Regions from separate parts of the Homo sapiens genome. Here region 1 is linked to region 2. The links come from fine-mapping of genetic effects on gene expression. A gene starts in region 2. The other region holds a variant in brackets. All regions are shown on one strand. Distances are from middle to middle.

Region 1 (2,908 bases), 25 kb before region 2:
GTTTCATTCCTGATGTTATAACTTCTCTGTTTTTTTGGTCAGTCTTGCTAGAGGTCTGTCCTGGGCTCAAGCAATCCTACCATCTATCTCAGCCTCCCACATAGCTGAGACTACAGGCCCGTGCCACCACATCCAGCCATTTTTTTTTTTTTTTGTAGAAACAGGATTTCACCATGTTGCTCAGGCTGGTCTTGAACTCCTGGCCTCAAGCAATCTACCTGCCTTGACCTCCCACAGTGCTAGGATTAGAAATGTGAGCCACCACGCCCAGCTAATGTTGTCTTTTTTTTTTTTTTCAGACGGAGTTTTGCTCTTGTTGCCCAGGCTGGCGTGCAGTGGTGCGATCTCGGGTCACCACAACCTCTGCCTCCCGGGTTCAAGCGATTCTCCTGCCTCAGCCTCCCAAGTAGCTGGGATTATAGGCATGCGCCACCACACCCGGCTCATTTTATATTTTTAGTAGAGATGGGGTTTCTCAATGTTGGTCAGGCTGGTCTCAAACTCCTGACCTCAGGTGATCCACCGGCCTTGGCCTCCCAAAGTGCTGGGATAACAGGCGTGAGCCACCGTGCCTGGCCAATATTGTCTTTTTTTTTTTTTTTTTTTTAAAGAGACAGGGTCTTGCTCTGTTGCCCAGGCTGGAGTGCAATGGTGTGATCATAGCTCACTGCAGCCTCGAACTTCTGGGCTCGAGTGATCCTTCCCCCTCAGCCTCCTGAGTAGCTGGGACTACAGGCACGCACTGCCATGTCGGCTAATTAAAAAAAATTTTTTAGAGATGAGATCTTGCTATGTTGCCCAGGCTGGGAACTCCTGTCCTCAAGCAATCCTCCTGCCTTGGCCTCCCAAAGCAGGGGGATTATAGGTGTGAGCCATCGTGTCAGCCTGTGTTGTTGTCACTTTGCCAGTTCCAGTGAAGCACAGACCTCATCTCCTATTATGTTCCTTTACCTTTGCCTTTCTATAATTATCTTAAATATGTCCTTTATGTACATTTTGAACCACATCAGATATTGCTAAGATTTTTGCTTCTGCTATCAAACGTAATTCAGAAAACTCTAAAGAAGAAGGAAAGCCTATTGTATTTGGTGATAAATTCTTAGTTTTTCTTCATCTGAGAATGTTTTGATTACTTCTTCATTCCTGAAAGATATATTCACTGGGTACAGGATTCTAGCTTGACGGTTTTCTCTGAGCACTTGAAGAAAAATAATTGTGTCCCTTTCTTCTGGTCTTTCTGGTTTCTGATGAGAAATTCAGTCATCCAAATTCTTTTTCCC[A/G]TACTGGTGAAGTGTCATCTTTCTCTGACTGCTTTAGAGAATTCTGTCTTTCATTTTTAGAAGTCTAATCATATGTCTCTGGCATAGATTTCTTTGCGTTTATGCTATTTGGGGTTTACTCAGTTTCTTGATTCTGTATGTTTATGTCTCTTGCCAAATTCAGGAAATTTTTTAGCCATTATTTCTTCAAGCACTTTTTCAGGCTGTCATCTTTCTCTGTTTCAGGGATTTCAATGAAACGAATGTTATATCATTTGTTATCGTCTCATAGGTCCCTGAAGCTCTATTTTAAACCCCATTCTTTTTATTTTTTTGAGACAGAGTCCCGCTCTGTTGCCCAGGCTGGAGTGGCACGATCTCGGCTCACTGCAACCTCTGCCTCCTAGGTTCAAGGGATTCTCCTGCCTCAGCCTCCCGGGTAGCTGGGACTATAGGCGTGTGCCACCAAGCCCGGCTAATTTTTTGTGTATTTTTTTTTTTCAGTAGAGATGGGGTTTCACCGTGTTAGCCAGGATGGTCTCGATCTCCTGACCTTGTGATCCGCTCACCTCGGCCTCCCAAAGTGCTGGGATTACAGGTGTGAGCCACAGCACCCAGCCGAAGACCCACTCTATTTCTTCTCTGTGGTCTGGATTTCTATTGTTCTGTCTTTCAGCTCATAGATTTCTTTCTCTGTCCTCTTATTTTTCTATTAAGCCCATCCACTGAGCTTTATATTTTGGCTGCTGCTGTTCTTAGTTCTACAATTTCCAATTTCCATTTGGTTCTTCTTTTATGTTGTCCTTCTCTTTGCTGACACTTTGTTTCACTTGTTTCAAGGGTGTTCACAATTTCTCATTGAAGCATTTTTACTGTGTCTGCTGTAAAATATTTGTTAGATAATTTTAACATCATCATCTTAGTGCAGGCGTATATTGATTATTATTGTTCATTCAATTTGAAATCTTTCTAGTTCTTGGTATGATGAATGATTTTCACTTGAAACCTGGACATTTTTGCCTTACTTTATGAGAACCTGGATCTTATTCAATCTTTCTGTTTGGGCTGCCATTTTCTGACGTTGTGCTGGCAGGAGAAGGGGTATGCCACCATCACTGCCAAGTGGAAGTAGAAGTCTAGGTTTCTTTTTTTTTTTTTTTTTTGAGATGGAGTCTCTCTCTGTCACCCAGGCTGGAATGCAGTGGTGCGATCTCGACTCAGTGCAACCTCCGCCTCCCGGGTTCAAATGATTCTCCTGCCTTAGCCTCCCGAGTAGCTGGGATTACAGGAACACACCACCACGCCTGGCTAATTTTTCGTACTTTTAGTAGAGATGGGGTTTCACCATATTAGCCAGGATGGTCTCGATCTCCTGACCTTGTGATCCACCCGCCTCGGCCTCCCAAAGTGCTGGGATTACAGGAGTGAGCCACCGTGCTGGGCTTTTTTTTTTTTTTTTTTTTTTTGAGACAGAGTCTTGTTCTGTCACCCAGACTGAAGTGCAGTGGTGCCATCTCGGATCACTGCAACCTCAGCCTCCCGGGTTCAAGCAATTCTCCTGCCTCAGCTTCCCAAGTAGCTGGGATTACAGGCATGCGCCACCACACCTGGCTAATTTTTATATTTTTAGTAGAGATAAGGTTTTACCA
Region 2 (2,908 bases):
AGGCGGGCAGATCACCTGAGGTCAGGAGTTCAAGGTCAGCCTGGCCAACACGGCGAAACCCCATCTCTACTAAAAATACAATAAAATTAGCTGGACGTGGTGGCACGTGCCTGTAATCCCAGCTACTTGGGAGGCTGAGACAGGAGAATCGTTTGAACCCGGGCAGTGGATGTTGCAGTGAGCCAAGACTGCACCACTGCACTCCAGCCTGGGTGACAGAGTGAGACTCCATCTCAATTAAAAAAAAAAAAAAAAATCACTCAATAGGTACAAGGCTTTGACAAGTTTGACTCGCCATCCTTTACCACTCTGGTACTAGTATTAATAGTCCTAGGAATCCCCCAGCCCGGCTTGACTTTGCATGTGCCCTTATATCTGTTTTTCTTTCCTATAAATAAGCATCCAAAGTACCTTAGGCTAGCTAGTGTTTGTTGAGCGACTGTAGCTCTTCAATCTGCTGCTGGGCTGAACAAATCTATTTTGTTCAGATTAATACTTTACACATTCCTTTGCTTCATTATTTGCTGCTTCCTTAAAATGCTATCAGTATTGGATGAGCAGGCTCAACTTTGTTAGCTTCATAACCAAAAAATAAAAAATCTTGGGAATCTCGCTCCACTGATTCCCTAGGGGATATTTTCCCAGATCCCTTCACTTTGTTCCAACCAAGGTAGAATGCCAAATGTGTGTGCTTTAGGCCTGGACCCCCTCATATTCTAAGCATGGGTAGCGAATGAGCTCACAAAAAGGAAAAAGAGGGGTCTGGAAAGAAGACACACAAACCAGAAAATGCATACCCCTGCCTCCTGCTCTTCTCGGACTTAACTAGTATGGATACCACGTGCTTCGGGTCTCCGCGCTTCTCAGCGGTGGCCATCCCGTTTCCTGCAGCTGGGCCAGCAGTCTGGGAGAACCCTTGATTCCCTTTCACCTGCCCCAGTGCACCAGCTTCCTACCAACGCATCCGTTTCTGGGCGCACACCACATCTCTCTCCTAGGTTGTTACAAGATCCCCAACTGGCTTCCCGGCTTCCTCTCGTCCCATGCCTACCCGCGCCCCTACTTTCTAGGAAGCAGCCAGAAGGACTCCTTCAAAACACTTAAATTGCATCGCCCCGTGATCAACTTCCGAGGCCCCATAAGGCTCCGAATGAACCCCAAAGTTCTTCCCGGGCTCAGGGGCTCTGCCGGTTCACCTCCGGCAAGTCCCCTGCCCTTCGCATCTGCTGTGCCCTCTTCCTGGCAGGCTCTGCTTCCCCAGAACCTGCAAACCTCACCCCTGGAAGTCACTCGGGTTTCGGCCCCAAAGTCACCTCTCCGTGGGCCCTTGCGGGGCCACAGCTCGCACCCGCTCCTCCTTGAAGCTCGCATCCCTGACTTAGGCCGACCTCGCGGACATCCCCGCGCGGGACGCCCCACGCGAGAGCGGCCACAGGCCGGGAGCCCCCTTCGTCCTCCCGCGCGGGACAATCGGCGACAGGCGCCGGCCGCTCCCCAGCCCTGCCCTAAAGGCGCGCACCTCTCCGGCGAGTTGTGTTTCCCGCAGCCGCTGGGCTGACTCGCCGCGGGTGCCGGCGCATCCCTCCCCGGCGCCACGGCCGCCTCCATCCCCGCCCCACTGCTGCCGGGCATCCAGCCTCCTTCCCGCGGAGCGCTACGGGCCCAGAGCGCCGGGGAGGAGGCGGGGCCGCGACGCCCGGGCGCGTCCGGATTGGCTGAGCGAAGCACCCCAGCCAATCCACCCGCTTCAGAGGGCCGCCGAGCCCCCAGCGGGGAGGCGAGGCTGCGCTGGGTCAGGTGACGGGTGGGGGCGGGGCTTAGCGCGTCACAGAGCTTCCCGGGAACCGGGCGCTAGAAGCCGCGTCTCCTGGGCCGGCGGATCCCCGCACTTTCACTTCCGGGGGAGCCCCGTGACCTTTGCTGTCTGCGGCAGGGCCGCCATCGGGCCGCGGCCGGTTAGTCGGCGTAAGAGCAGGCGGGGCCCGAGCTGGACCTGAGGAGCAGAGGCGGCTGGGCAGTCCTGCGGGTGCCTCCCTCTAGCCGCATGAGCGCGGGACCGTGCACTCCGGGAGAGCCGGGGCCGCGCGGCCTTGTTCCCCGCGAACCCTCGAGGGGAAGTGCCGGGGCCGCGGCAGCAGGGCCAGGGCCCCGGGGGTCTCCCGCAGGCCACCCTGGACAGTGATGAGCAGGTCCGCTGGACCTGCGCGTCCGTTAGTCGGAGCGGCTCCATAGGGGACCTGGATGGCGTGAAGTTAAGAGTCACGCATCGAGGATGGACTTGAGGGGATCTGGAGTAGAGGATGGGAGGGCATTGAGAAAATAGGGCCAGAGATGAGGGACTCTAAGTGGGCGTGGAAACGCAGGAAAGATTAATTCAAGATCTGTTTAGGCCGTTAAATAGGAATTGGGGCATGAGGGACAGGAAGGAAGCAAGGATTAGACAAGTGACTGGGAAGATGTTAGTGCCTTTATCTGGGTAAGAGGGAAGACGGGAGGGGGAAAGATGATGGGTTTAGCTTTGGACATGTTGAGTTGTCTGTGAGACAGTCACAAGTGTAAACATCCACCAATGGTTGGTGTCCCGCCAACCATTAAGAAAAGTCAGTTGAGAAAGTGGTAGAAATGAGCAAAAATCCTCACGAAGCCATCCTACCGTCACTTTTTTTGTTGTTTTTTGTTTTTTTGGCATAATAGTGTCTACCTTTAATTGAGCCTTGAACTATGCCAGGCAGTGTTCTAGGTATTTTTCGTGTGTTCACTAATTTAATCTTGATGATTAACCCAGTCTGGTAGGTATTTATGTATGAGGAATCCAAGATACAGAAAGGCATCTTGCCCAAGTTCACACGAGTAGTGGCTGGAGCCAAAATTCGGTTTCAAGCATGCTTTGCCAAGAGGTTGAATTTTA

What was found. PIP is the estimated chance that this variant, and not a neighbour inherited with it, causes the effect.
Region 1: its variant is the best candidate, but not a certain one, in a credible set for the expression of SCLY in nasal epithelium (TOPMed, PIP 0.56).

What each region holds. Positions count from the first base shown.
Region 1 is chr2:238,084,408-238,087,315 of GRCh38, reverse strand. The region is part of intron 7 of SCLY (selenocysteine lyase); the gene reads right to left. The region is part of intron 14 of UBE2F-SCLY (UBE2F-SCLY readthrough (NMD candidate)); the gene reads right to left. Among named protein-coding and RNA genes, the nearest start is that of ESPNL, 14 kb to the left of the region's middle. The variant A/G (reference allele first, on the strand shown) is at 1,281.
Region 2 is chr2:238,059,755-238,062,662 of GRCh38, reverse strand. It overlaps SCLY (selenocysteine lyase), which reads right to left and starts at 1,662. Exons shown (of 12, transcript NM_016510.7): 1 at 1,520-1,662. The coding sequence starts at 1,608. The region is part of intron 8 of UBE2F-SCLY (UBE2F-SCLY readthrough (NMD candidate)); the gene reads right to left. RefSeq lists silencers at 1,453-1,902, 2,043-2,252.